Homo sapiens: one gene and its partner. The protein of the gene in region 1 interacts with the protein of each later gene in a biochemical or structural test. Each region holds a gene or a part of one and is shown in the gene's direction. Other genes may lie near its edges. The genes, in order: PRB3 and ALB.

The links.
Region 2: the proteins of PRB3 (region 1) and ALB form a complex in vitro, tested with the Homo sapiens proteins (one study listed by BioGRID).

Annotation. Positions count from the first base shown.
Region 1 is NC_000012.12:11,266,617-11,274,198, reverse strand, and holds the start of PRB3 (basic salivary proline-rich protein 3 isoform 2 precursor), read left to right. Parts: upstream 1-4,491; 5' UTR 4,492-4,529; coding exon 4,530-4,593; intron 4,594-5,530; coding exon 5,531-5,566; intron 5,567-6,050; coding exon 6,051-7,006; 3' UTR 7,007-7,023; intron 7,024-7,582. UniProt on the Homo sapiens protein: Acts as a receptor for the Gram-negative bacterium F.nucleatum.
Region 2 is NC_000004.12:73,400,398-73,407,553, forward strand, and holds the start of ALB (albumin preproprotein), read left to right. Parts: upstream 1-3,889; 5' UTR 3,890-3,930; coding exon 3,931-4,009; intron 4,010-4,718; coding exon 4,719-4,776; intron 4,777-6,231; coding exon 6,232-6,364; intron 6,365-7,156. UniProt on the Homo sapiens protein: Binds water, Ca(2+), Na(+), K(+), fatty acids, hormones, bilirubin and drugs. Its main function is the regulation of the colloidal osmotic pressure of blood. Major zinc transporter in plasma, typically binds about 80% of all plasma zinc.

The DNA of each region.
Region 1 (7,582 bases):
AGGAATTGGGTCACTGAAACAAACTTGTTTATTGAATATTGTTTAGCGATAATTTTGTATCCAATCATTTTTAAAATGAATGTTCTATCCCTGTCTCACAGCATGGGCTTCCTCGCAGCATGTGGCAGGTTCCATAAAGAACAGTTTGGAATTGCATGGCATTTCTATGATCTAGACTCAAAAGTCATAAAGTATCACTTCTGATATAATCTATTGGTCATGGCAGTAACGAAGTTCTAACGAAGCTCAAGGGGGTAAAAACAGACCTCACCCCTTCAAGAGAGGATGTCAAGGTACCATTGTAAGAAAACATTAGATGAATGATTCTGTCGTGATCAACTTTTAAAAACACAATGTGCCACACATTCCAATTCCCAAGATGAAAAATATGCATACATGTGGATTTCAATATCAATGAAATAAAATAATAATTTGTGGTTTTTAAGCAGAAGAGAAAACGTCTTTTGTAAGAAATAGGTACAGGTTTATCTGTTTAATAAGTGAGTCATTGATTAATCACTTTAATGAAATTCCTCTTAAATGTATCAGCTTACCGACTTGGTACATCATCAGGAAAATACGAGGGTGATATACATTGCTTTGTATTTCTTATGAGATAAGTTGTGATTGTACTTCTCTATGAACTGCTAGGAAGTGTAACTGAAAGGTCAAGAATACACTCTGACATTGAGATAACAGTGGTGAGCTGAGGCTACAGACACTTGACCTTAGGCTGATGACCAATGCCTTCTACAGCCCCAACCACTCAGGATGGTACACCAGCTCTGGGGCCAGGACACAGGCGACATCTTCATGCAGAATATGAAAGCTGTGTAAGCGGTGTACAATTTATCCTTTCTTAGACAACTCTCTGATCAGACTCCCTCTTGGATTTCTAGAATGTTAATTCCATTGTGATTAGAAGGATCAAATTTAGTCAATTTAAAAGGGCATACACAAATTTTGCCAATGCTAATATGCTACCCAAGAAAAATGCATGTAGCATGGATTAAGGAAGTACATACAGGATCTACATTGACAGAGTTTTGTAACTAGGAAAAAAAGGAATTAATTCCCCTGAGTATCTTTATATAAATGCAAGGGGTAAAGCAGAATACTAGAAGACATTTTAAATGTGATTACGATTTCAAACAAACATGTTTACTCAGGAAAATATATTTTTTCTCACCTCAGCTGTTAAAGTCTCAGGAAAATTTAACCTTGAAAATATTCTAAGAGAAACTTGTTTTTCTTCTCTGAATCTCATTTCCTTTCACTTTCTTGTAAAGAAATGAATGAATGAAGACCAAGTAACCAGTGAAGCACAGTAGGCAAGAACTCAGATCTGAGAACTGACTCCCTTCCATTCCACTCACTACCTTTACATGAACCTAGGCACGCACCTAAATCACCTCATCTACAAAATTAAGATAATAATAATAATCACACCTCCCTAATATGATAGTTCTGAAGACTGAATATCATAGTAAATGCTGAAGAAGTGTTTTCTATTATAATCAGCCTTTGCTAGGATAAATGGAAAGAATATAAATATGCTCAAATAATTGTGAAATATATATTTAGAGAGCATCAACATCAAATAAAAATATAAAGATGACCATCACATAATATATATTATGTTATCATATAATATATAGTATAATATAATATAATATAATATAAAGATGACAATTACATCAGTGTAACCGAAGCTTTTAGACAATTCCAAGCAAATCTGAATTCTCACACACAACCGTATTATTAGAATGGCTGGTTTATGCAATGAGCACAGTAAGTTGAGGAAAATTCTGCTTTCTGTTCCGTTCACAGAACTTCCCAGTCTTCAAAAAGAGAGAGATGTGTGGGTGTGAGAGAGCTAATGCTGGGGTAGGAATGTTACCAAGAGCAGCTGAGGATATTAAGCTCTTCAGGAGAGTGCATCGTGGCCTGAACTATCACCTTCTAGTAAAGATTATGCAAGTGGTTTTATTTGGGATGAGTGTTGAAAGTGGAGGCAACTCAATTTGCTAAAGGACAGTGCCTGAAGGGAGTGAGGATTTTTGAACCACTGAACACCTGTTAGTGACTTAGAAAAGGTTGGGAGTTGTTATGAGAGCTGAATTGTGTTTCCTAAAATTTCATATGTTGAAGACTGTTCCTTCAGGGCCTCAGAATATGAACATGGATATTAGAAGGCAAGTGGAGTGCTGAGGGCTGCCACTCACCTCTAGATGCCCAATCTCCTGCTGCAGTCCTGCTCCTCTCTTCCACCCACCCTCACTCACAGACAGTGTCCCTTTCCACATTTCCATCACTTCTGTTTTTGTTTTGTCTGGTTAGTGCATAGCTGATATTTATGCTTTCCTGATACACTTTACTCATTGCTGACATTGGAGAAAGTCAGGGAAAGGGCCTGAGATAAGGGACTTTTAGGGGCATTTCTGTTGTCTTCCTCTACTCTCCTGCCAAGGACAAATCTTTCTTGTATCAGGCCTGCAGCAACCTAAGTTGGCGACAACATCAGGCAATGTTGGCCTGGCCTCTCTGCTGCTCCTTGTTTCTGACATTCCTTTGTTACCTGATGGTCTAACTTAAGACACCTAGGCAGGATTGGTCATCTCCAGTTCCTATGGAGGAGACCAGAGATAGAAATCTCAATAATATAATGGGACCTGCTGGCACAAGCAAGTACTCTCTGCCTAAGATAAAACTCATGAAGACTAGCTAGAACCAGTCCACTTTCCATAGAGCCAGAAATAATTTCCAATTAATAATATATTCCCCTTTCAAGTATGTCTATATTTTTGCCAGGGAAAATATCAATCTTCCTGGTTCCCTTGCAAGGGCAAAGTTATCTGTAGCAAAGCCTTCTGTATTAGGAAGTCTTCCTGTACTATTACCCCCAACTCTTCAGAAGGGCCAGACCAGACCCTCATCTGCACAGTCCAGGATCCACTCATCCACAATGGTCAAGAGGTCTGTCTTTAGGATTTACTGTCACATACCCTCTCTACCTCCATCATACCTCCAGCCAAGCTGTCCTCAAATTAATACCAGCCATGCACAAAATGTGAACAATTACACAAGACACACAGAAGGTCTAAGTGGTAAATGGCAGCTGACTCACTGACTAACCTGTATATTCCATGAACTGATGAGCAGGGATTTACTAGGTATAACAGAAGAATCAGCAGCTAAAAGAAGTGCTAACAATGCAGGACTCTGAGAGGGCTTTTTGGAAACACAACATTTATTGTGAAATTACACAGACAAGAATGAAACAAAGGTGGTGAGAATTATAGCTTATTACTTAGAAGATTAAATAAAGGAAATCTTACCAAATTCCTGGGGAAAAAAGCCAGATATATAAAGAAAATTACACAAAATGAGCTTGACTCAGAAAATAAAATATGAACAAAGAAGTACCAGAAAGAACGTCAGGGAGGAATGCATATCAGAATATTGTAGAAAAAATACTCTTTGTGGAAGAACAATCTGAGAAAACAGGTAACACAAATACTGACTAAACCAAGAAAACCAATACAATGCAATTGAGGCTTTAATGAGGGTATCTGATTACCTTATTTGAATGTAGAATTGTAGCCACTTAATTATCAGAGGTAGGAATTCAATACAATTCTTAAAAGAAATGAAGCAGAGGGTGAATTTTGTAGAATATTCTAGAGAAAGGGAAGAGCATGAAGGAAGTTTTGGCAACATGATATTGCATGGTTCCTGCAAGGAACTATATATTCAGTTTTCTCAGGTCTAGAAATTTCCTCGTGGTTTGTGTGTCCATTTTGCATTCATAACCCCTAAAGATACTTTAAAATACACAATTTTGGCCTTCCTGTGTTTCACAACAAGAAGCCTTTCCTGACTTGAGTGAGATCCACAGAAGCATGAACAATAGCTGTAGCCTGAGTAGGCTGTGAGGCAGCCTTCTGTCATCTGTGTGCCCAGGAGTGTGCTGTCCTCAAACATCTCCCAGATAGCAGAAACTATCTCTATCGCATCAAAAGTTAAGCTAAATGTGATACTCTCTGTACACACACATCACGAGAGATGGAAATAGGCTATAAAAACAGCCAGAGATATTGATCATCATCACCGCTGGCTGTAGCTTCACTGCCCACACACACATACACAGAAATAAATAGCAAAGTTGAAAGTGGACAATAGTCTTACCAAAAAGATTGAAACTCTAATGACGTCTGAAGTTCAATTATGACACCGTGCTGATTGCTTGGACACAGTTCCTTTAAAACCTTTGTTCAAGTCATAGTTGTACCTTTTAGAAATAAGGTACAAACAACATCCAACCCAACCTGTTCCTCTGGGCTAGAGTCCCAGACAGAAATAAGGGATACACCTGACCTGCAGTAAGGAAAGCAGAACCCAGTCTCTGGGGTGGTGAGGCCCACCCAGTGTGGAGCTCAAAGGTGCCACTGTTCTGCTCCTCTTTATAAAGGGAGCTGCCATGGTTCTCCCAGCACAGAGTTGGGAGTGACTCCAGAGCCTCCAGCAAGATGCTACTGATTCTGCTGTCGGTGGCCCTGCTGGCCCTGAGCTCAGCTCAGAGCTTAAATGAAGGTAAGACAGAAGGAGGAGAAGATGTGGTGACTCTGCTTGGGGCTTAGGAGGTGATAGTTGTAATTATGGGGAAGAGAGGAGAATGAAAACACAGATGGGGCTGCAGAGGTTTCATGCCTAGGATCAGGAGACCTGTTGTGCCCTCATTCCACACCAAGGGCTTCTAATTTATTTAATGTACAATGAAAATCCAATAAAGAATTTGTACCAGGGGAATGAGAAGGTAAGATTTGCATTTATAGAGAGATAGAACTGTGCTGTGAAGGATGCAGTGGTGAATGCAAGGCAGATTCAGGAAAGTCCAGCTGTGAAGATCCTAAACTGATCTCAGTAAGTACACAGGGATGATTGTGGCCTTGCTCTACCTAGTGGATCAGCATTGATGATGGAGATAAACACACATTAGAGATACTGCAGAGACAGAACTGGATAAAACACTTGCCTGTGTCTAACTACAGATATAGAAATATCAGATTCAATCATTGTGATTTTTCTTTCCCCTACACACAGTATTTCAATGTGCTGGGAGTGGTATAGGTAAGATTGTATTGAAACAATTACTTCTGGTTACCGAAATTGAGAAAGCTTGTGAATATAAGCAATGTATTTATAGGAGATGGAGGGCATAAGAATACCAAAATATCACATTGAAGTACCTGGCATGTGTAAACTAAATTAGCATTAAGTCTTGAAGGATGCTAGGGAAGAAAAAAAGGGGCTCTTCTATATTGAGTTCATGGCTGTTGCTCTGTGTGGTAACAACCCTGCCTCCCCTTACACCTTCCTCCCCTTCCAGCAGCTTCACAGATGGTAGCTGATGAGCTAACCTAGGGGATGCATGGGGTGTGGTGAGAAGTCCCCTTTCCCTGTAGAACACCTGTGAATCTTGCAAAATTCGAGATGTAACCTTTCCCATCATCCTGTGCTTCTCTTCTAGATGTCAGCCAGGAAGAATCTCCCTCCGTAATATCAGGTAAATCCCAATTCACTCTCAATCTGTTTTAACTATCTTCTTCTGCTTATGAATGGATCAGTTCTCCAGTGTCTTCTCACCAACATTTTCCTTTAGAAATTGATTAATATTAGTCCCCCTAATAATGCAGGCAATCTTCATGCAACCTTGATTTTGGGGACCATGAGCAGGGCCACCAAATTGAATGGCAGAGATGCTTGGCTTAGATGAAAACGGGAGTGGGTTGACTTCCCTCCTGCCAGGAGTGCCTGCTGGGAGATGACAGACAAATGGCCAGTGTCCTTATTCTGACTCCTCCTTAGACTGAGAGCCCCTCAACTGCTTCCTTCTTCTCCAGCATTCCACTCCAGAGTTCTAGAGCTTCACTGAAAATGCAAAGAAATTAGTGTCTGGGTCTTATTTTTGTGCATTTCCCCATTTAGCTGCGTTACTGTAAAAATTTGCGGCAACTATTCAGTGAATGCCGTGTGTCCACCTCCTCCAGGAAAGCCAGAAGGACGACGCCCACAAGGAGGAAACCAGCCCCAACGTACCCCACCTCCTCCAGGAAAGCCAGAAGGACGACCCCCACAAGGAGGCAACCAGTCCCAAGGTCCCCCACCTCGTCCAGGAAAGCCAGAAGGACCACCCCCACAAGGAGGAAACCAGTCCCAAGGTCCCCCACCTCGTCCGGGAAAGCCAGAAGGACAACCCCCACAAGGAGGAAACCAGTCCCAAGGTCCCCCACCTCGTCCGGGAAAGCCAGAAGGACCACCCCCACAAGGAGGAAACCAGTCCCAAGGTCCCCCGCCTCGTCCGGGAAAGCCAGAAGGACCACCCCCACAAGGAGGAAACCAGTCCCAAGGTCCCCCGCCTCGTCCGGGAAAGCCAGAAGGACCACCCCCACAAGGAGGAAACCAGTCCCAAGGTCCCCCGCCTCATCCGGGAAAGCCAGAAGGACCACCCCCACAAGGAGGAAACCAGTCCCAAGGTCCCCCACCTCGTCCGGGAAAGCCAGAAGGACCACCCCCACAAGGAGGAAACCAGTCCCAAGGTCCCCCACCTCGTCCGGGAAAGCCAGAAGGACCACCCCCACAAGGAGGCAACAAACCTCAAGGTCCCCCACCTCGTCCAGGAAAGCCAGAAGGACCACCCCCACAAGGAGGAAACCAGTCCCAAGGTCCCCCACCTCGTCCAGGAAAGCCAGAAGGACCACCTTCACAAGGAGGCAACAAACCTCAAGGTCCCCCACCTCATCCAGGAAAGCCACAAGGACCACCCCCACAAGAAGGTAACAAACCTCAACGTCCCCCTCCTCCAGGAAGGCCACAAGGACCACCCCCACCAGGAGGCAATCCCCAGCAGCCTCTGCCACCTCCCGCTGGAAAGCCCCAGGGACCACCTCCACCTCCTCAAGGGGGCAGACCACACAGACCTCCCCAGGGACAGCCTCCCCAGTAATCAAGGTTCAATGACAGGTATGATTCCAGTTTATTCTTCACCAAGTGCTCTAAGTGTTACAGTTCTCCAACTTTATTGTGCCAATGAATCAACTAAAAACCCATTGACATTGTATTGTCCTAGAACCCATTTCTAAAGATTTGTATTCAGATACTCTGGAATAGGGTAAGAAGACCCTGTATTTCTAACAAACTCTTTAAGGAACTCTGATGTTGAGAAACAACATACCATACAATCTGTCTTAAATTGTGTTGGCAATGAGGAAGTAGTACCATGTCCATTCTTGGTGCTCTGCTTTCGGTCCACAAACTCAGAGATATTGCATTTAAATTTTTCACCTGAGCACTGTTTGCTCATTCCTGCCTCACGCCAGCCTCTCGAGTCCAGTATTCCTGCCAAATGGTCCCTGATCTTTCAGCAGCTAAATGGTGTCTCATTTTTTACATACTTAGTTTTCAGTAAGTACATGATTAAGCTAACAAAAGATATCTAATGGAATGGAAAAATATGAAGTTAATTTTAAAGGCGTAGCTCATCCTACTCACCTTCCTTCCTTCAAAAAGCTACCACTGTTGA
Region 2 (7,156 bases), on another chromosome or scaffold:
GAAATTCGAATGTATATATATTCCAGAGGCCCAGTGTAACATGAAGAAAGTCAAGGAGAGGGACTCTTTCATCATGGAAGATCTGGGGGCAGAGGGACTTAAAAGGTGGGACAAGCCAAAGATGGTGACCTAGGGTGGTTTTTATGATATAACCTTTTTTCTCCTCATTCCCTATGAAATCTTCAGCCAATTCCATATTTCTCACTAATTCAAGTGAATATCTGGGGGGATGGCTTATGGAGGGAAATAAGGGAGCAATTGTTTGGATTATATTCCAATTTTTTATTTGCATTAGAATACCTATATGTTTATACATTTTTATTTGCATTAGAAATACTTATATAAGTTTATACACTTTCATTCTAACTTTTTTTGAGGGAAATGTATCTCCATAAGTGAATAAGAAGTTAAATTACTGATTATGTTTCAATTGGTTAGTTTGATGCTTAACAGTCTTTCACTTTTCCACTCTTGCATATTTTGTAGAGAGTAATACAAGCTCTTCATGATAGGAAGGATCTGCATATGTTTATTTTATAGTAGAAAAATGGTAAGATTTTCCTGTCCCCAATTTTCTCTCCAAACAAATCCAAATTTCTTGTATTTTGGAATGACTCTGGGTAAAGTGGTTGTTTATAGAAAGTCTCTTATAAAATATTGAGGATATTATTAGATATTATTACATTTCCATGAATATGTTTCCCTTTATCTTTAAGAGAAGAAGAGTCAGAAATATAACCTATCAGAGTGGGAGATGGCATAAAAGCTGGACTAAATGGATTGCTAGATGGAGGGCAAACCTGGTGTGAATGACTCAGTGAGAAGCTTCGGGAGTCCTGAGGGTAGCAGAAGGGTGCGGATTTAAAGTTACTGTTAGAGTGGCTGGAAAATGGGAGACCGGTTCAGAGACATTTTATCTACTTAAAAACTGTGCCTTTTGTATCACGTCAAAGTGAATGCAAAACAAAGAACAAAAGGGTTAAAGGCTCAGGTTTAAATCCCAGGTATATGTACATTTCAATTGAGGTATTTTTTTTTTCTTTTCTAAATGATCAGTACACTTATTCTTTCTAAAGAAAATACTTTTCTTAACTACTCTCTATTTTTAAACTTCTCCCACAAAGATGAGAAAACATTTAAAAATCATTGGGGCTATTTTTCTGTTTACCGAGTAAAGAGAATCTCTAAACCATATTTATAACTCTTACTCTAAATATTTGCATTTACCCTCATGCCAGAGCCCGTTGATGACTGACTAAACAGAGTTTCAAAGTTTGAAGAACAGGAAATTTAGAAATGACTAACAATTATGTAGGTTTATTTCTCTCAGTATAGAATGTTCATATAGAATTAATGCCAGAGGTTTTCAGAGAAAAATGCAGAAATTTTTACTTTGCAAATCCAGAAGATGCAATTGTTCAAGTATTTCTTAAGAAACATTAATTTTAAGTATGCAGATATCATTGAGAATTAAATATTTTAATTTCTAAACTATTAATCTTTTAGTAGGATGCACATATGCAAAATGCCTCATTAGTACTGTAAGAAAAGATTCTTGGCCGGGCGCGGTGGCTCATGACTGTAATCCCAGCACTTTGGGAGGCCGAGGTGGGCGGATGACGAGGTCAGGAGATCGAGACCACCCTGGCACACGGTGAAACCCCGTCTCTACTAAAGATACAAAAAATTAGCCGGGCGTGATGGCGGGCGCCTGTAGTCCCAGCTACTCGGGAGGCTGAGGCAGAAGAATGGCGTGAACTCGGGAGGCGGAGCTTGCAAGTGAGCCGAGATAGTGCCACTGCACTCCAGTCTGGGCGAAAGAGCGAGACTCCATCTCAAAAAAAAAAAAAAAAAAAGAAAAGATTCTTTTAGGTTTCATCAATTTTGTTTTAAAGCTAGGGCTCTTCATTAGATATAGGAAAATCAATTCAAAGTTTCTATTCAGTCATGATGAATTTGAGATTTTTTTAGGTTTCTTTGTATTTAACAATATATTACATTATAATGTTGTGGTGAAAACTAAATGGACTAATATTATTCTTTTCATTTGTTAAATGAAAAAGTATGCACAAAGTATATGTGAGAGTGACAAAGGCCTGAATTTGTCAATTAGTAACAATTGTATTCAACAGTAAGGATTTTATGTTTGGGTAGGCCTTTCCCAGGGACTTCTACAAGGAAAAAGCTAGAGTTGGTTACTGACTTCTAATAAATAATGCCTACAATTTCTAGGAAGTTAAAAGTTGACATAATTTATCCAAGAAAGAATTATTTTCTTAACTTAGAATAGTTTCTTTTTTCTTTTCAGATGTAGGTTTTTCTGGCTTTAGAAAAAATGCTTGTTTTTCTTCAATGGAAAATAGGCACACTTGTTTTATGTCTGTTCATCTGTAGTCAGAAAGACAAGTCTGGTATTTCCTTTCAGGACTCCCTTGAGTCATTAAAAAAAATCTTCCTATCTATCTATGTATCTATCATCCATCTAGCTTTGATTTTTTCCTCTTCTGTGCTTTATTAGTTAATTAGTACCCATTTCTGAAGAAGAAATAACATAAGATTATAGAAAATAATTTCTTTCATTGTAAGACTGAATAGAAAAAATTTTCTTTCATTATAAGACTGAGTAGAAAAAATAATACTTTGTTAGTCTCTGTGCCTCTATGTGCCATGAGGAAATTTGACTACTGGTTTTGACTGACTGAGTTATTTAATTAAGTAAAATAACTGGCTTAGTACTAATTATTGTTCTGTAGTATCAGAGAAAGTTGTTCTTCCTACTGGTTGAGCTCAGTAGTTCTTCATATTCTGAGCAAAAGGGCAGAGGTAGGATAGCTTTTCTGAGGTAGAGATAAGAACCTTGGGTAGGGAAGGAAGATTTATGAAATATTTAAAAAATTATTCTTCCTTCGCTTTGTTTTTAGACATAATGTTAAATTTATTTTGAAATTTAAAGCAACATAAAAGAACATGTGATTTTTCTACTTATTGAAAGAGAGAAAGGAAAAAAATATGAAACAGGGATGGAAAGAATCCTATGCCTGGTGAAGGTCAAGGGTTCTCATAACCTACAGAGAATTTGGGGTCAGCCTGTCCTATTGTATATTATGGCAAAGATAATCATCATCTCATTTGGGTCCATTTTCCTCTCCATCTCTGCTTAACTGAAGATCCCATGAGATATACTCACACTGAATCTAAATAGCCTATCTCAGGGCTTGAATCACATGTGGGCCACAGCAGGAATGGGAACATGGAATTTCTAAGTCCTATCTTACTTGTTATTGTTGCTATGTCTTTTTCTTAGTTTGCATCTGAGGCAACATCAGCTTTTTCAGACAGAATGGCTTTGGAATAGTAAAAAAGACACAGAAGCCCTAAAATATGTATGTATGTATATGTGTGTGTGCATGCGTGAGTACTTGTGTGTAAATTTTTCATTATCTATAGGTAAAAGCACACTTGGAATTAGCAATAGATGCAATTTGGGACTTAACTCTTTCAGTATGTCTTATTTCTAAGCAAAGTATTTAGTTTGGTTAGTAATTACTAAACACTGAGAACTAAATTGCAAACACCAAGAACTAAAATGTTCAAGTGGGAAATTACAGTTAAATACCATGGTAATGAATAAAAGGTACAAATCGTTTAAACTCTTATGTAAAATTTGATAAGATGTTTTACACAACTTTAATACATTGACAAGGTCTTGTGGAGAAAACAGTTCCAGATGGTAAATATACACAAGGGATTTAGTCAAACAATTTTTTGGCAAGAATATTATGAATTTTGTAATCGGTTGGCAGCCAATGAAATACAAAGATGAGTCTAGTTAATAATCTACAATTATTGGTTAAAGAAGTATATTAGTGCTAATTTCCCTCCGTTTGTCCTAGCTTTTCTCTTCTGTCAACCCCACACGCCTTTGGCACAATGAAGTGGGTAACCTTTATTTCCCTTCTTTTTCTCTTTAGCTCGGCTTATTCCAGGGGTGTGTTTCGTCGAGATGCACGTAAGAAATCCATTTTTCTATTGTTCAACTTTTATTCTATTTTCCCAGTAAAATAAAGTTTTAGTAAACTCTGCATCTTTAAAGAATTATTTTGGCATTTATTTCTAAAATGGCATAGTATTTTGTATTTGTGAAGTCTTACAAGGTTATCTTATTAATAAAATTCAAACATCCTAGGTAAAAAAAAAAAAAGGTCAGAATTGTTTAGTGACTGTAATTTTCTTTTGCGCACTAAGGAAAGTGCAAAGTAACTTAGAGTGACTGAAACTTCACAGAATAGGGTTGAAGATTGAATTCATAACTATCCCAAAGACCTATCCATTGCACTATGCTTTATTTAAAAACCACAAAACCTGTGCTGTTGATCTCATAAATAGAACTTGTATTTATATTTATTTTCATTTTAGTCTGTCTTCTTGGTTGCTGTTGATAGACACTAAAAGAGTATTAGATATTATCTAAGTTTGAATATAAGGCTATAAATATTTAATAATTTTTAAAATAGTATTCTTGGTAATTGAATTATTCTTCTGTTTAAAGGCAGAAGAAATAATTGAACATCATCCTGAGTTTTTCTGTAGGAATCAGAGCCCAATATTTTGAAACAAATGCATAATCTAAGTCAAATGGAAAGAAATATAAAAAGTAACATTATTACTTCTTGTTTTCTTCAGTATTTAACAATCCTTTTTTTTCTTCCCTTGCCCAGACAAGAGTGAGGTTGCTCATCGGTTTAAAGATTTGGGAGAAGAAAATTTCAAAGCCTTGTAAGTTAAAATATTGATGAATCAAATTTAATGTTTCTAATAGTGTTGTTTATTATTCTAAAGTGCTTATATTTCCTTGTCATCAGGGTTCAGATTCTAAAACAGTGCTGCCTCGTAGAGTTTTCTGCGTTGAGGAAGATATTCTGTATCTGGGCTATCCAATAAGGTAGTCACTGGTCACATGGCTATTGAGTACTTCAAATATGACAAGTGCAACTGAGAAACAAAAACTTAAATTGTATTTAATTGTAGTTAATTTGAATGTATATAGTCACATGTGGCTAATGGCTACTGTATTGGACAGTACAGCTCTGGAACTTGCTTGGTGGAAAGGACTTTAATATAGGTTTCCTTTGGTGGCTTACCCACTAAATCTTCTTTACATAGCAAGCATTCCTGTGCTTAGTTGGGAATATTTAATTTTTTTTTTTTTTTAAGACAGGGTCTCGCTCTGTCGCCCAGGCTGGAGTGCAGTGGCGCAATCTCGGCTCACTGCAAACTCCGCCTCCCGGGTTCACGCCATTCTCCTGCCTCAGCCTCCCGAGTAGCTGGGACTACAGGCGCCCGCCATCACGCCCGGCTAATCTTTTGTATTTTTAGTAGAGATGGGGTTTCACCGTGTGCCAGGATGGTCTCAATCTCCTGACATCGTGATCTGCCCACCTCGGCCTCCCAAAGTGCTGGGATTACAGGAGTGAGCCACCGCGCCCGGCCTATTTAAATGTTTTTTAATCTAGTAAAAAATGAGAAAATTGTTTTTTTAAAAGTCTACCTAATCCTACAGGCTAATTAAAGACGTGTGTGGGGATCAGGTGCGGTGGTTCACACCTGTAATCCCAGCACTTTGGAAGGCTGATGCAGGAGGATTGCTTGAGCCCAGGAGTTCAAGACCAGCCTGGGCAAGTCTCTTTAAAAAAAACAAAACAAACAAACAAAAAAATTAGGCATGGTGGCACATGCCTGTAGTCCTAGCTACTTAGGAGGCTGACGTAGGAGGATCGTTTGGACCTGAGAGGTCAAGGCTACAGTGAGCCATGATTGTGCCACTGCACTCCAGCCTGGGTGACAGAGTGAGACTCTGTCTCAAAAAAGAAAAAGGAAATCTGTGGGGTTTGTTTTAGTTTTAAGTAATTCTAAGGACTTTAAAAATGCCTAGTCTTGACAATTAGATCTATTTGGCATACAATTTGCTTGCTTAATCTATGTGTGTGCATAGATCTACTGACACACGCATACATATAAACATTAGGGAACTACCATTCTCTTTGCGTAGGAAGCCACATATGCCTATCTAGGCCTCAGATCATACCTGATATGAATAGGCTTTCTGGATAATGGTGAAGAAGATGTATAAAAGATAGAACCTATACCCATACATGATTTGTTCTCTAGCGTAGCAACCTGTTACATATTAAAGTTTTATTATACTACATTTTTCTACATCCTTTGTTTCAGGGTGTTGATTGCCTTTGCTCAGTATCTTCAGCAGTGTCCATTTGAAGATCATGTAAAATTAGTGAATGAAGTAACTGAATTTGCAAAAACATGTGTTGCTGATGAGTCAGCTGAAAATTGTGACAAATCACTTGTAAGTACATTCTAATTGTGGAGATTCTTTCTTCTGTTTGAAGTAATCCCAAGCATTTCAAAGGAATTTTTTTTAAGTTTTCTCAATTATTATTAAGTGTCCTGATTTGTAAGAAACACTAAAAAGTTGCTCATAGACTGATAAGCCATTGTTTCTTTTGTGATAGAGATGCTTTAGCTATGTCCACAGTTTTAAAATCATTTCTTTATTGAGACCAAACACAACAGTCATGGTGTATTTAAATGGCAATTTGTCATTTATAAACACCTCTTTTTAAAATTTGAGGTTTGGTTTCTTTTTGTAGAGGCTAATAGGGATATGATAGCATGTATTTATTTATTTATTTATCTTATTTTATTATAGTAAGAACCCTTAACATGAGATCTACCCTGTTATATTTTTAAGTGTACAATCCATTATTGTTAACTACGGGTACACTGTTGTATAGCTTACTCATCTTGCTGTATTAAAACTTTGTGCCCATTGATTAGTAACCCCTCGTTTCGTCCTCCCCCAGCCACTGGCAACCAGCATTATACTCTTTGATTCTATGAGTTTGACTACTTTAGCTACCTTATATAAGTGGTATTATGTACTGTTTATCTTTTTATGACTGACTTATTTCCCTTAGCATAGTGCATTCAAAGTCCAACCATGTTGTTGCCTATTGCAGAATTTCCTTCTTTTCAAGGCTGAATAATATTCCAGTGCATGTGTGTACCACATTTTCTTTATCCATTAATTTGTTGATTGATAGACATTTAGGTTGGTTTTCTACATCTTGACTATCAT